Linked DNA regions of Homo sapiens: region 2 is linked to region 1. The links come from fine-mapping of genetic effects on gene expression. Tissue or cell type: testis. Region 1 holds a variant in brackets; the other region holds the start of a gene. All regions are shown on one strand. Distances are between the middles of the regions.

The links. PIP is the estimated chance that this variant, and not a neighbour inherited with it, causes the effect.
Region 2: it holds the start of SSUH2, and the variant in region 1 is fine-mapped to the expression of SSUH2 in testis (GTEx, PIP above 0.99).

The regions. Positions count from the first base shown.
Region 1 is chr3:8,675,765-8,684,026 of GRCh38, reverse strand. It overlaps a transcript of SSUH2 not described here. Among named protein-coding and RNA genes, the nearest start is that of SSUH2, 35 kb to the right of the region's middle. The variant A/C (reference allele first, on the strand shown) is at 3,268.
Region 2 is chr3:8,640,150-8,648,149 of GRCh38, reverse strand. SSUH2 (ssu-2 homolog) reads left to right here and starts at 3,352. Exons shown (of 12, transcript NM_001256748.3): 1 at 3,352-3,419. The coding sequence starts at 3,392.

The DNA of each region.
Region 1 (8,262 bases):
ATTGTTCCTAATATCCAAGAAGGGAGAGGATGATATTACTCCCAATAAAACAGTGGGTGTACATTGACCCTGTGTTATTGTCTCTAATATCCGGGGCCGGGGGAGGTGGGGAGAGGATAACATTCCCTCAAATTTAGCAGGTAGTTTGATGCCCCTTGTGGTGTTGTTTTAAATATCCAGCGGGGAAGACAATAGTACTATTTTTGAAAGTCCGATTCATCCATTCCACCTTTCCGGAACTCTGAGGCCGGGAGGTGGCAGGCAGTTTCCGTGTGATCCCCAATACCTTTGCCGTCTTCTGTACCAAGGCCGCCAAAAACGCAGGTCCGTTATCTCAGCCGATCCGTAAGGGCAGTCGAAATCTAGGAATCAGATTTCGAAGAAGCACAGGGGTTATCACGAGCTTTCTCAGTTCGTGTTGGATAGGCCTCCACCCACCCAGAGTAGGTACACCCAAGAACTAGTAAATACTTGTTACCTCCCCACTTTGGCATCCCTGTGAAGTCTACCTGGAGATCTTCAAAGGGGGCTGCTCCATAAGCTTGTATGCCGGGCGGAACGGCTGCACCTTGCCTCGCATCATGCTGTCGGCAGGTAACACACCGCTGCCTCACCGTTTTGGCAAGGGCTGACAAATGTGAGATGTAGAAACACTGGCCTAACAACTTTTCCAGTGACTCCTGACCTCGATGGGTGGTTTCTTGTCCAACTACAGCTCCTAGCAACTGTGGCGCAGCTACTCTCCCATCTGGTAACCGAATCCATCCTTCCTCCATCACTTGTCCTTCCCTCTACCTGGAGAAAGTCCTTTTCTTCTTTAGAAGAAGTAGGTCCAAGATCAGGTGCTTGAGGGAGCACTGATGCCCGAAAGGGGGCAGATGCTGCTTTTCGAGCCTCTGAGTCAGCGCGGGAATTCCCCAAACCCAGCAAGGTGGAAGCTCGCTGGTGTCCTCTGCAATGCATAACTGCCACCTTGTGGGGTTTCCACTCTGCTTCTAATCATTGCGAGATTTCTTGTTGATATTTTCTGTCTTTTCCCCCAGAGTTAAATAGGCCTTTTTCTTTCTATCACGCTCCATGCACTTGAAGGGTTAAAAAGACATACCGGGAATCAGTGTAAATGTTGACAGTCTCACCCTCACTGAGTTCTAACGCCCCAAATGAAAGCAATGAGTTCAGCTTTATGGGCTGCGGTGGCCTGGGGCAACGACCTGGTTTCAACAACAGTGTCCAGGGTTACCCCTGCACACCCTGCACCTCTCTCTCCTTGGGGGTTGAAGAAGCTGCTCCCATCCACGTATAGTTCCCAGTCTACTGATGCCCAAGGCTGGTCCCGGAGGTCAGGTCTGCTAGAGTCAATTGAGTCCAACACTTCTACACAATCAGGCTCGACAGGGCTCTCTGATACCGGGAGCAAGGTGGCGGGGTGTAGGGTGTTACAAACTTCAATGGTTATATGGGGATTTTCACAGAGCAAAGTTTGGTACTGGGTGAGTGTGGCATTCGTTAGCCAATGGTGTCCTTTAGTATTCATTAAAGTCACCACAGCACAGGGGGCCTTTATGTTCAGGTTTTGCCCAAGAGTCAGCTTATTTGCTTCTTGTACTAGCAGGGCAGTTGCTGCCAAGGCCCTCAAACAGGGGGGCCATCCTTTAGAAACCCTGTCTAGTTGTTTAGAGACGTAGGCCACCGGCCTCAGCCAGGGCCCCACAGTTTGGGTTAAAAGTCCAGCTGCCATCTTTTCTCTCTCTGACGCATACAATGGAAAAGGCTTTGTCAGATCGGGTAGCCCCAGGGCTGGGGCTGCCAGAAGTTTTTACTTTAACTCATGAAAGACTTGCTGTTGTTGGGATCCCCCTTGCAAAGGTTCCCGGTCCCCGCCCCCTTTGTGATCTCATAGAAAGGCTTGGCTAATACTGCAAAGTTTGGAATCCACAGTCCACAAAACCCCACAGCTCCTAAGAATTCTCTCACCTGCCTTCTGCCCTTAGGCTCTGCTAGATTGCAAATGACCTGCTTTCTTTCTGATCCTGGGCTGCGTTCCCACCCCTGTCAGATAGTAAATCCCAAGTAAGGTACCTGCTTTCGGCAGCTCTGAGCTTTCTTCTTGGACACCTAAAACCCACAGTCCTCCAGGTGGGTCCTAAGGATCTTAGGATCTGCGATGGGGTTCCTAAGCCAGGGGGGGAAGAGGGGCTGGCTCTCAGTCCCCACCCTGCGGTGGGTGCCTCCCCACCCTGTGCTGGGCGTCCTAAGAGCCAGAGGGGGAAGAGGGGCTCGCTCTCACTCCCCGCCTCCCAGGGGGTGCCTCCCCCCGCTGCGATGGGGGTCCTAAGAGCCGGGGGGAAGAGGGGCTGACTTTCAGTCCCCATCGCACGGGGGGTGCCTCACCCTCCTGCGATGGGGGTCCCAAGAGCCGGGGGAAAAGAGTGGCTGGCTCTCAGTCCCCGCTTCGTTGGGGGTGCCTCCCGCCCCCCATGGGGGTCCGAAGAGCCAGGGGGGAAGACGGACTGGCTCTCAGTCCCCGCCTCGTGGGGGCTGCCTCCCCCCTACGACGGGGGTCCTAAGAGCCAGTGGGGGAAGAGGGGCTGGCTCTCAGTCCCGGGCTCGCCGGGGGTGCCTCCCCATCCTGCGATGGGTGTCCTCAGAGCCAGGGGAAAAAAGGGGCTGGCTCTCAGTCCCCGAGCCGCGGGGGGTGCCTCCACCCCCGCGATGGTGGTCCAAAGATCCAGGGAGGGAAGAGGGGCTGGCTGTCAGTCCCTGCCTCACGGGGTTCCTCCCACCCTGCGATGGGGGTCCTGAGAGCCAGGGGGGGAAGAGGGGCTGGCTCTCATTCCCCGCCTTGCATGGGGTGACTCCCCCCCCTGCTATGGAAGTCCTAAGAGGCAGGGGGGGAAGAGGGGCTGGCTCTCAGAACCCGCCTCGCGGGGGTGCCTCTCCCCCCTGCTATGGAAGTCCTAAGAGCCAGCGGGGGAAGAGGGGGTGGCTCTCAGTCCCCGCCACTTGGAGGTTGCCTCCCCCACTGCGATGGGGGTCCTAAGAGCCAGGGAGGGAAGAGGGGGAGAGGATGATAATAATTCCAGCATCACAGGCAGTGTTCACCCAGCCTGTCAAATTGTTATTAATATCCTGAAAGGGAGAGGATGATATTACTCCCCATAATAGACAGATACGGCTCCCCATAATAGAGAACGAGGTGTACACCCACCCTGCAATATTCTTTCCAATATTCAGAGGCCGAGAGGTTGATATTACTCCAAATATCGC[A/C]GTAAGTATACACCCCTGTGTGAGATGCTCCTTCATAATATACCAAGGCGGAGGGGGTGATATGACTTCATGTATGGCAGAAAGTGGAAACCCCCAGGGATGTTGTACCCACGATCCTGGAGGGAAGAAGATGATATTACTTTCAATATGACAGAAGGTGGACACGCCCTCACTGATATTGTTTCTAATTTCAGCGTGGGAGAGGAGGATATAACACACGATATCGCAGGGAGTAGAAACACCCCTGTGATACTGTTCTTAATATTCAGGGAGGAAGAGGATGATATTACTCCCAGTACAGACAGGTGTATACCCTCTGTACACCGAGGGTGTACACCCATCTGTGAAACAGTTCATAATCTCCAGAGAGCGAGAGGATATGACTCACAATATGGTAAACAGTCTGTGAGTCCACCTTGGATCCTAAGAGCCAGAGAGGGAAGAGGGGCTGGCTTTCAGTCACCACAGCATGGGGGGCCTTTATGTTCAGGTTTTGCCCAGGAGTCAGCTTCTTTGCTTCTTGTACTAGCAGGGCAGTTGCTGCCAAGGCCCTCAAACGGGGGGCCATCCTTTAGAAACCCTGTCTAGTTGTTTAGAGACGTAGGCCACCGGCCTCGGCCAGGGTCCCACAGTTTGGGTTAAAAGTCCAGCTGCCATCTTTTCTCTCTCTGATGCATACAACGGAAAAGGCTTTGTCAGATCGGGTAGCCCCAGGGCTGGGGCTGCTGGAAGTTTTTCCCTTAACTCATGAAAGACTTGCTGTTGTTGGGATCCCCCTTGCAAAGGTTCCCGGTCCCCGCCCCCTTTGTGACCTCATACAAAGGCTTGGCTAATACTGCAAAGTTTGGGATCCACAGTCTACAAAACCCCACAGCTCTTAAGAATTCTCTCACCTGCCTTCTTCCCTTAGGCTCCGATAGATTGCAAATGACCTGCTTTCTTTCTGATCCTGGGCTGCGTTCAGACCCCTGTGGGATAGTAAATCCCAAGTAAGGTACTTGCCTTCCGCAGATCTGAGCTTTCTTCTTAGACACCTAATACCCACAGTCCTCCAGGTGGGTCCTAAGGATCTTAGAATCCGCGATGGGGGTCCTAAGCCAGGGGGGGAAGAGGCACTGGCTCTCATTCCCCGCCTCACCGGGGGTGCCTCCACCCCCTTCGATGGGGGTCCCAAGAGCCAGGGGGGGAAGAGAGGCTGGCTCTCAGTTCCTGCCTCGCTGAGGGTGCCTCCCCTACCTGCGATGAGGGTCCCAAAGCCAGGGGGGGAATAGGGGCTGGTTCTCAGTCCCCGCCTCCCGGGGGGTGCCTCCCCCCGCTGTGATGGGGGTCCTAAGAGCCAGGGGGGGAAGAGGGGCTGGCTCTCAGTCCCCTCCTCCTGGGGGATGCCTCCCGCCAATGCGATGGGGGTCGGAAGAGCAAGGGGCGGGAAGAGGGGCTGGCTCTTAGTCCCCGCCTCATGGGGGGTGGCTCCCCCCCTCCGATGGGGGTCCTAAAAGCCAGGGGGAAAATTGGCTGGCTCTCAGTCCCCGCTCACGGAGGGTGCCATCCCCCCTGCGATGGGGGTCCCAAGAGCCAGTGTGGGGGAACAGCGGCTGCCTCTCAGTCCCCGCCTCGCGGGGGTGCCTCCCCCCCGCAATTTGGGTCCTAAGAGCCAGGGGGGAAAGAGGTGCTTGCTCTCAGTCCCCGCCTCGCGGGGGGTGCTTCCTCCCCTGCGTTTGGTGTCCTAAGAGCCAGGGGGGGAAGAGGGGCTGGCTCTCAGTCCCCACCTCGCGGGGGGTGACTCTCCGCCCTGCGATGGGCGTCCCAAGAGCCAGGAGGGGAAGAGTGGCTGGCTCTCAGTCCCCGCCTGGCGGGGGGTGCCTCCCTCCCTTGCAATGGGGATCCTAAGAGCCAGGCTGGGGGAAGAGGGATTGGTTCTCAGTCCCCGCCTCGTGGGGAGTGCCGCCTCCTCTCCCTGCGATGGGGTCCTAAGTGGCAGGGAGGGAAGAGGGGCTGGCTCTCTTTCCCCGCCTCGCGTGTGGTGCCTCCCCCCCCCACGTTGGGGGTCCTAAGACCCAGGAGGGGAAGAGTGGCTGGCTCTCAATCCCCGCCTCGCGGGGGGTGCCTCCCCCCACTGCGATGGGGGTCCCAAAAGCCGGGGGGGAAGAAGGGCTGGCTCTCAGTCCCTGCCTCGCGGGGGGTGTTCCCCCCTCTGTGATTGGGGTCCTAAGAGCCATGGAGGGAAGAGGGGCTGGCTCTCAGTCCCCGCCTCGCGGGGGGTGCCTCACCCCCTTGCAATGGGGGTCCTAAGAGCCAGGGGGGGATAGAGGCGGAGAGGATAATAATTCCAGCATCGCAGGCTGTTCACCCAGCCTGTGAATTTGTTATTAATATCCTGAAAGGGAGAGGATGATATTACTCCCCATAATAGACAGATATGACTCCCCATAATAGAGCACGAGGTGTACACCCACCCTGTGATATTCTTCCCAATATTCAAAGGCCGAGAGGTTGATATTACTCCAAATATCACCGTAAGTATACACCCCGGTGTGAGATGCTCCTTCATAATATTCCAAGGCGGAGGGGGTGATATGACTTCATGTATGGCAGAAAGTGGAAACCCCCAGGGATGTTGTTCCCACGATCCTGGAGGGAAGAAGATGATATTACTTTCAATATGACAGAAGGTGGACACGCCCTCACTGATATTGTTTCTAATTGCAACGTGGGAGAGGAGGATATGACACGCGATATCGCAGGGAGTAGAAAAACCCCTGTTATACTGTTCTTAATATTCAGGGAGGAAGAGGATGATATTACTCCCAGTACAGACGGGTGTACATCCGTCTGTGAAACAGTTCATAATCTCCAGAGGGGGAGATGATATTACTCACAATATGGTAAACAGGCTGTGAGTCCACCGCAGATCCTGAGAGCTGGTGGTGGAGTGGGTGTGTGGGGCTGGCTCTCAGTCACCACAGCATGGGGGGCCTTTATGTTCAGGTTTTGCCCAAGAGTCAGCTTATTTGCTTCTTGTACTAGCAGGGCAGTTGCTGCCAAGGCCCTAAAACAGGGGGGCAATCCTTTAGAAACCCTGTCTAGTTGTTTAGAGACGTAGGCCACCGGCCTCAGCCAGGGCCCCACAGTTTGGGTTAAAAGTCCAGCTGCCATCTTTTCTCTCTCTGATGCATACAATGGAAAAGGCTGTGTCAGATCGGGTAGCCCCAGGGCTGGGGCTGCCAGAAGTTTTTCCTTTAACTCATGAAAGACTTGCTGTTGTTGGGATCCCCATTCCAAAGGTTCCTGGTCCCCGCCCCCTTTGTGACCTCATAGAAAGGCTTGGCTAATACTGCAAAGTTTGGGATCCACAGTCTAGAAAACCCCACAGCTCCTAAGAATTCTCTCACCTGCCTTCTGCCCTTAGGCTCCGATAGATTGCAAATGACCTGCTTTCTTTCTGATCCCGGGCTGCTGAGTTCGGACCCCTGTTGGATAGTAAATCCCAAGTAAGGTACCTGCCTTCGGCAGCTCTGAGATTTCTTCTTGGACACCTAATACCCACAGTCCTCCAGGTGGGTCCAAAGGATCTTAGGATCCGCGATGGGCGTCCTGAGCAAGGGGGGGAAGAGGGGCTGGCTCTCAGTCCCTGCCTCGCGGGGGGTATCTCTCCCCGCTGCGATGGGGGTCCTAAGAGCCACAGGGGGAAGAGGGGCTGGCTCGCAGTCCCCGCCTCCTGGGGGGTTCCTCCCCCCACCGCGATGGAGGTCTCAAGAGCCAGGGGGGGAAGAGGTACTGGCTCTCAGTCCCCGCCTCACAGGGGGATGCCTTCCCCCCGTACTATGGGGGTCCTAAGAGCCAGGGGGGAAAGAGGGGCTGGCTCTCTGTCCCCGCCTCACGGGGGATGCCTCCTCCCCTGCGATGGGGGTCCTAAGGGCCAGGTGGGGAAGAGGGGCTGGCTCTCAGTCCCCGCCTCACTGGGGGTGCCTCCCCCCACTGCGATGAGGTCCTGAGATCCAGGTGGGAAGAGGGGGAGAGAATGATAGTAATTCCAGCATCGCAGGCTGTGTTCACCCAGCCTGTGAAATTGTTATTAATATCCTGAAAGGGAGAGGATGATATTACTCCCCATAATAGGCAGATATGACTCCCCATAATAGAGCACGATGTGTACACCCACGCTGTGATATTCTTCCTAATATTCAGAGGCCGAGAGGTTGATATTACTCCCAATATGGCAGTAAGTATTCACCCCCGTGTGAGATGGTCCTTAATAATATTCCAAGGCAGAGGGGGTGATATGACTACATGTATGGCAGAAAGTGGAAACCCCCCAGGGATATTTTTCCCACGATCCTGGAGGGAAGAAGATGATATTACTTTCAATATGACAGAAGGTGGACTCGCCCCCACTGATATTGTTTCTAATTGCAACGTGGGAGAGGAGGATATGACACGCGATATCGCAGGGAGTAGAAACACCCTTGTGATACTGTTCTTAATATTCAGGGAGGAAGAGGATGATATTACTCCCAGTACAGACGGGTGTACACCCTCTGTACACCGAGTGTGTACACCCGTCTGTGAAACAGTTCATAATCTCCAGAGGGGGAGATGATATTACTCACAATATGGTAAACAGGCTGTGAGTCCACCGTGGATCCTAAGAGCCAGGCGGGGAAGAGGGGCTGGCTCTCAGTCACCACAGCATGGGGGGCCTTTATGTTCAGGTTTTGCCCAAGAGTCAGCTTATTTGCTTCTCGTACTAGCAGGGCAGTTGCTGCCAAGGCCCTCAAACGGGGGGCCATCCTTTAGAAACCCCGTCTAGTTGTTTAGAGAGGTAGGCCACTGGCCTCAGCTAGGGCCCCACAGTTTGGGTTAAAAGTCCAGCTGCCATCTTTTCTCTCTGTGACGCATACAATGGAAAAGGCTTTGTCAGATCCGGTAGCCCCAGGGCTGGGGCTGCCAGAAGTTTTTCCTTTAACTGATGAAAGACTTGCTGTTGTTGGGATCCCC
Region 2 (8,000 bases), 36 kb after region 1:
TGTGAAGGTTTAACTGAGAAAGCATCTGTGAACGCATCTCCCTTCCTATGTGGTATTTGGGGGGCATCAAGAAGATCTCAGTCCCTGTTTTCTGTCTGTGCAGTTAGAGGTCCACGACTTGGGCCTGGAGGGATATGCCAGTTTCCCTGGCTCCCAGAGAGAGGAGGGTGCTTGGGCATGGTGTTTCGAGAACCTCCTACTTGGACAAGTTTCTTATTTGTGTCAAGCCCATTCTCCTCCACTCCATACTTGATTCCTGCCATGGGCACCACTGGTCTCCATCCACCCAGCCTGCAGATAAGCCAACAACAATGTTATCTGTGGCTGCCAGGCCCTTTGGGGCAGAACTCCTTTGTTGGCAGTCTTGGCTCCTGTGGGGGTTCTGGGTGGCTCTGGGTTCGGTTGGGTTGTGAGGGCCCGAGGCAGGGCCTGGTTCCTGGTGGATGTGCAGGGAGCATTCACTGGATGAATGAGAGTGAGGGCTCTGTAGATGGTGGGGTGAGACCTTCGTCCAGCAGGAGCTGAGCAATAGCCGGCTTCTCTGAGACAAAAAGAAATAACCAGACCAGGCACTGTTCAAGGTTCTGCCCCCTGGGAGTACTTCTCCTCACCACGGTCCTTCAGGGATGTTCTGGAAAGGGGCTGCAGTGCTGCCATGTCCACTTTAGGACTTTGAACTCAGTCTACCCTGACTCTGAAGCCACAGACTGTGATGTTCTACTATTGCTCACACCCCACTTTGTTTAATCACCAAGCTTCTGCGTTAATATTCTTCCAAAGAGCTCAGTCCAAAGGCAAGAAACTCTTCTCACTAGAAAGTTTCTTTGTTCAGCCGAAAATGACCTCCATTCCGGACCAGCTCTCCGCATGCCTGCGCATGGATAGGACAGGTGTCCTGAGATTCTGTTCTGCTGCTGCCTTCCCACATGCCCCTTTAAACACTTGAAGACAGTTATTGAACCTTGCTTCTAGGTTTTTCCTCACTATCATGTTCAATTGCAGTCTGACCACGTGGTTCCTTGATTCCCTTCTAAAGCTCTGCCCTACCCTAATTCTTGCTGCAGCCATGACATATCCCAAGACAGACACCCACCTGTGAGATTACATAGATTTTATTTCCAGGAAAAAACAAGGTTCTTAGACAGCAATCAATTGATAGAGTCAGCTCCTGGACAGCTGTGCTAATTCCACAAATGTTTCTTGAGCACTTAGCACATGCAGGACACGAGGGCCAGTTCAGGAGGAGCTCTCAGAGCCCACTCATTTCCATCAACAGCAGGGAGGAAGAATGACTGTCAGATGTCAGGCACATAGTGGGCGCCTCTCTTCCCTGATCCCAACCTCCTTTGATAGTAAGAGGCAGGGACCAGTACTAGCCTCACACTGTCGTGGGTCCCAGAGCTAATGCTGCTTGTTCCTGCTGCTACCACGGATGTTAGGTGTTGATGGGTACATTACTTGCCCCGAGTCACTCAAGCACACTGTTGCAGACAGCACTTCTGTACGGATGCCGAAGCAAGATCAGAAAGGTCTAGCTGTTGGTTTGTTTATCTTCCATGCGTTTTAAGAGCTTTTTATTAACTTACTATTATGTGATCTAAGTAGCGTGCAGAAAAGGACTGTCATTTCTGCTGATCAGCACTTCCTGGTTACGAAAATACAGCTCAGCGTTGTCTGCATTTTTGCGGCCTCAAGATTTCGGGTCCTTGTAATGCTTAATTCTCTTCAACATTTTGTTCAATTTGACATTTAAAGAATTTTCTGTGGTTGTTCCTTTTAAATGCTGAGGAGGGTTTTAGGTAAGCATATATTGCGCTTAAAAAGTACTCAAGATGTAATAGTGGTATATTGTTTTAGTTAAGTTGCAAGCATTTTGTCATTAATCTATCATTTATCATGTTTTGGCTCAAATATATACACACATGCAAACACACACCTAAACAGATACAGCAATGGATGCTCACACAGATGTTTAGGGTAAAATATACACGCAGAGAAAGGCATACAAATTCATGATAACCCCATTTACCATGGGGACAATTCTATAAGGGCTTAAAATCATTGCTTCATGTATAAAGGCATCAAAAGACCACATTTGTTCCTCAGGATCATGGTCTTCCTTGTGTATACACAGTAATGAAACTTATATGACTCTCAAGTATCAGAAATCCAGTGCTCCTACCAGCCATAAAAATCGATTTGTGAGGACTGAGTCACCTAAGAAGCATTTGTGAAATTGTGAATACTGCTGAAGGTTGCACTTGCATGCTGTCGGCGATGGGCAGTCAGTGACGAGGGTGAAGGCAGTAGAGAGAATAAAGACACGCTCTTTATGGAGCAGCTGGGAGCCATCTCTGTGCAGTGTGGCCATCCCAGACAGGCCGACATTTAGGACACTGACAAAATAGTCCTGATGCTTCCCCTGGTGAAGGCAATCCCAGGTTGTCATTGAGGAATATCATGGCACATCCCACGTGCATTGCTGGGATGGGGAAGTCAAGGCGTAGGGCAGTTTCATCACCCTGGCCAGAGAACCCCAGGTTCAGCTGCAGAGGAGTGATTGCCAAGGATGCAGTGGAGGGGGTGGGACCCATAGAGCCTCGGGGACCAGCTCACAAGTTCTGTGTTTAGACTCATGCAGAGGAGGATGATCTTCCAAGGGCTGAGGTTGAAGGGGTGTCAAACTCCAATGGAAAAGGTTTAGGAAAAGACCTTTTACAAATCCAAAGATGTTTCACAGTGGGCGAGGCTGGTGTGGCGACAGTAGTGGCCCACATGGCTGGGTTGGGAGCCAGCTCTGCCCATGAGGTGCCGTGTGGCTTTGCAGTGTGGCCTCACAATCCCAGCTTTGTTTCTTCCCCAGGGAGATGAGGCTGGTGATGCTCAAGATCTCAGAGGCCCTGCCCAGGCTGAGTATCTGTATATAATATCCCCCTTGGGGAGGTAACCTTCTTGTGGTTATGACCTTTTTCTGCATGCGCCCTACAATACTTAGGAGTCTGCCTCCTACAGCTGGGCGATGTAGCTCAGTTGTCAGGCACTCTGACTAGAGAGTCAGACTGATGAGGGTTTGAATCTATCATCCTGCTCAGAAAAATGGGCATGATACCAGTGCCCCTCTCAAAGGGGTGCAGTGAGGACATGAGTAACTAGAAGCATCCATAAGAGCTTGGTCAGTAGAAGGCTCTTGTGGAAGAGGAGCTCCCAGAACCCGGTGGATTGGGTGCAGAGCAGCTGCTATGATGAACGATATAGATGTTTCCCTTTGTTGTATTCCAACTGGGTAACAATGGGCCTGCTGTTCTGGGAGGGGCCTGAGGGTGGTCCATCAGAGCACATCGGTCCAAGCACACTCGAAGGGCAGACATCTCTTTGGCAGGACGTCTGGAACATGGACAGGGATCTGAATGAAGATGACAGTAAGTAGAGCCTCAAAGATGGCACGGAAGACTGTGTGGAGATATTTTAGCCTGCATTTGAAGAGGACCTAATCTGACCTCTAATATGTTGGAAGTTATGTATCCATAGTCTTTTCTAATAAGCTCTGTAGCTAGCACTGTGTGAACTCTTCCATCTGCCCTAAATGCAGTCCTGGGTCTGCATCTGGATTGCCGAGAGCACCCCTTCCTTCCTTCCTTCCTCTCGTGTGTAAAGCCTACCTGTAGCTTGCGATCTCTTCTTCCGTTATGAGCCTTTGGACAATGGAGAAGGAAGGTGAAAGATGAAATTGAGAACTTTTCTCTCTATCACAGTGACACCATGCAAACCTTATATTCTTTTCCCTTTTTCTTCTTTTCTCTAGTTGACAGTGTCTCCTGCTCCCAGCCAAATCTAAGTGAGATTTTCAGGATTCTTATTTCAATCACAATTGGATTCAGTTCTTAGATGATGTTAACTCTACAGAAAGGTCGGGAAAAGGCTTCACTCGTGATCTTTCTCTAGCAAACGGCCAGTTCGTTCATTATCGCTTATGAAACATAGCCCAGGTGACCCCATCCTGTCACTACCGGGACAGAAATACAATGGATTCTCAGAGCTATTTAAAAACATGAAGGAAATGGTATTTCAGGAAGAAATGTGCTATGTTTTAAAAAGGGAAATTTTTGAATCCGAATTTGAAACAGGCAGTGCAGAGGGGTGGTGGTTGCCGGTGGCGGGGAGTGGGGAGGGGAAGAGCATGAGACTGAGAAGTGGGAGGCCAGGGTTCAAGTCCTGGCTCTGCTCTGAATTGGCTGTGTGATCTTGGGCAAATCACTTAACCTCTCTGAGCTGCAATATTCTCATCTATAAAACGAGATTGGTTTAGGTCTCAATCTGAGGACCATGAGGGTGTGGGCAAAATGCTTTTTGAGCATGCTTTTTGGGAGATGTAGAGAGAGGTCTATAGCTTTCATTTGAATCCAGAGAGATCCATGACACTAACACAACTTCATAGTCACCAGACTTGATGACACTGGAGCTTCTTTGCAGGCATAACACTCTTTCTTGTCTTTAATGTTGATATCTTAAAGCTTTAAGTTTTAGACCTGAAGCAGAATATGAAATTAACCTATACTAAACTTAGAGAGCTCAATTTAAATTTTGTTGGAATCTTTTTTCATATTGAAGTGAAAGACTGCCTGGAGATATTTTAGCATGTATTGGAGGAGGGCTTAATCTGACCTCTAATATATTGGAAATTGTATATCCATACTCTTGTTCTAATAAGCTTCAAATAACATTCTAATGCAATCTTTTTTCTTCAAAACACTGTTTATTAGCAGTCTTTCCATTTATGATTAGAGTTTCTCATAGTAGCAATGGACTAGGTCAGATCTGGACTCAAACCTATGCTCTGCCTCCTAGTTTCTGGGTGACTTTGCTCAAGTCACTTAACCTCTCTGAATTTCATTTCCCATAATTTTTTTTAAAGGGATGGTGTCATCTTGCAGGATTGATCAAAGATTCGTTGGCTACAAAGTGCCTAATACATCACCAGCCCAGAGTAGACATGGAGTCAATATTGACTCTACGAAATGATCAGGTCCCCAGAACTTTAAAAGTAAACTGCTATTAATGGGAAATATTATCTTCTGTGAAGTTCCTGTTTTGACCTCATGCCTTTTGGTGAGCAAGGTGAGAGAAAAGTGAAGTCTTTGGGCCCATTACAAGTCTAGGAACCCTGAGTCTTTCATAGGGTTGTCCTGAGTGCTGGTCTCAGATGTGATGGAACTCAGGTGAGCACTTGGGGTTCACTGCAAGGTATAGAGGCACCCAGGGAAACTTTTAGAAAAAGTTAATGAAATCAGAAACCAGGTAGATTTTTTTTTCCCCAAGTGTCAGAAAGGGAGCCTGCTACAGGCCTTACATAATTTAAATGTGCCTGTTTAGGGGAGAGGTGATTGCCCATTTTATCCAATCGAGTTAATGTTCCAGGCACTATAGTGTTGTCCCATCACTTTTCAGGTCTATAATATGAGTGACTTCAGGGGGAGAAAACCTTTCTCCAGTGATACGTTTTGGGACAAAAGTGCATGGATAGGAACGTTCTGGGATGTGGCACCCATGTGCAAATCTCCTCAAGGAGGCCTTTGACCATCACCTTCAGGTGCTGGCTGTCTACAGCATCCCTGACCAGGGCAGCATCTCCTACTTTGGCTGGACCACTTCCAGTGATGGTCTGGTTCTATTTCTATAGTCGAGACTGTCCAAAATTCTTTCTTACATTGAATCGCTATCTCTCTCCCTGGAGCTTCTACTCTTTGGTCTTGATTCCAGGCTGCAAGTCTACTCAGAATGTCTGTTCCCTGTTTAAGATAAGAGCCCTGTAAGTCTTTTCTTTTCTAGCCTAACCAGATCCTGTTTCTTCAACAATCCTAGAGGTAATCACTCTTTTCTTAAAGTGCAGTGTCCTAGCACAGAGCGGAAGAGAAAAAAATCCCCTCCCTTATTCTATATACCATATCTTTTGTGATAGAACTTACTTCTTTGATTGCAGACTGAAACCTTTTCCAGAAATGGTGAGCAAAAGCCTCTTCAAGTAAGATGGGCTATAAATACAGTCTCTGGTAATTTTAGGAGGCAGCTTTTCTGGTCTAGGACTATAAGACATGGGTTGTACCTTTTTACTCCTGGGCATGAGTTCCTGTGGACCCCCGTCCACAGGGGCAGGATTGAGATCACGAGTGAGAGCCCTGGTCTGGGGCCACATCGCCATCACCACCCCTGACCCAGTGCTGAGCAGCTGGGACTCTCCCTTGGTACCCAGGCCAGCTCTGCTCCCAGAAGTCTTGTTCATAGAATGCCCCTGCCCTCCACGACTAGGGATGGAAAATTGATACTAGCTTTCAGGCTCTCAGTGTATCTTGGTGAGAAAGGGTGCTGGACTTCTTGGCAAGGGCCAAGCTGCCGTTAGCTGTGGTGACTGACGGGGGATCTCAGTGTTTTTCACACATCCCGTGGATGGAGGCACAGCCACCGGAATGCAGCTTTCCCAGCTAGGTTAGCCCTGGCCTCTAGGGGCCCATCTGGTCTTTCCCACAGGCTGCACACTTCGGGAGGGGGATAGTGGTTCCGGTAGCCCCTAATAGGAAGATACAGCATCTACTTTGGGGAGTGAGTAAGAAATAAAAAGCTTCAGTGAAATTGTTACAGCTTAGACAGGATCCCCAGGCTCTCCTGAATCAGTTTCCAGAGTCCCCTCTCATCCATTGTCTCATTTGCTCCTCTCAGTGACCCTACTCCCTGAGCCCTGCTTTTAGGGAAAGGAAATCAAGGCCCTAAAAAATTGAGTGATTTTTTCTCCCCAAAGACTGCGTAGCAGGTTAGGTATTTTGTGCTGTGGTCATTGCTGGGAAAATGAGGATGAATAAAACATTGATCTACCTTTGGGGTACTCCAAGTCTGGTGGGGGACACAGACCCCACATGGACCTTTTACAAAGGATTCTTAAGAAGCCGTTTGGCAAAACAACAGTGGAGAAGTGGAGTGGAGTGCCAAGGGGCACAGGACAGGGAGCCGCACTCAGGCAGGCTTTGGAGACGGGGAGGTCTAAGCTAAGTCTGGAGGGGGTGCCCAGTGGTGCCGCTGGCAGAACCAGCCCCAGCCAGGGCTGGGGAAATGGCACAGGGTGTGTGAGGGTGAGTACAAATGTCTGTATCATGAAGCCACAGGGCACCTCTGGGAAGCCCAGTCCCTGTGTGGCCCTGTCTTGGCATGACAGCACTTTCTAAGAAGCATTAATTTCATATTTCAAATAATTGAAAAATATTGACAAATAACAATCTCAAATAATTGAAAACAAAAATTGCAATATTTGCTGCATTCTTGCTTGGCAACCCAGGGTGGCCTACATAACTTAAAGCAAATCTTCTCCCAACCCTTCACCCATTTCTCTTGATGTTGGTCTCACGGCATGGTGAACATTTGCTTCCCCAAATATTTTTTCAATGGCTCCCAAACCAACTATTCATGCTTCTCTCTCCAGCAGGCTTGCCTTTCTCCTTCCTTCTTTCTTTCTGTTCTCCTTGTCTCTTTCCTTCCTTTTTTCTCTGTGTTCTTTTTCCCTACTGTTGCCGTCTTCCACAGTTAGCTGCCTTACCTTCTCTCACCCTGGTCTGCACATGTAGGAGGCTTTTCCTTGGCATGTGGGCAGATGAGAATCCTTTCTTCCTCTCTTGTGGGTAAGGGCATCTAATGTAGGGACCTTACCTGCCAAATTCAGGAGCTTGGATTTAGCTGTGGGTAATAGTGAGTCACTGCAGGGGTTAGGTGAGGGGGTGATATGATCAGGTTTTCTGGTCTTGCTAGGAAGTACTTGAACTACTGTGACCAATTATTTGTTTGTTCTTTGTGGCAAAAACAGAACTTCTTTCTTTTCTTTCTCTTAGGATCACCTGTCATTCTCAAGTTGTTTTTATTTGTGATAAAATATACCTGACATAAAATTTGCCATCTTAGCCATTTGTAAGTGCCCAGTTCAGTAGTATTGTTCATTCACGTTGTTGTGCAGCCATGACCAT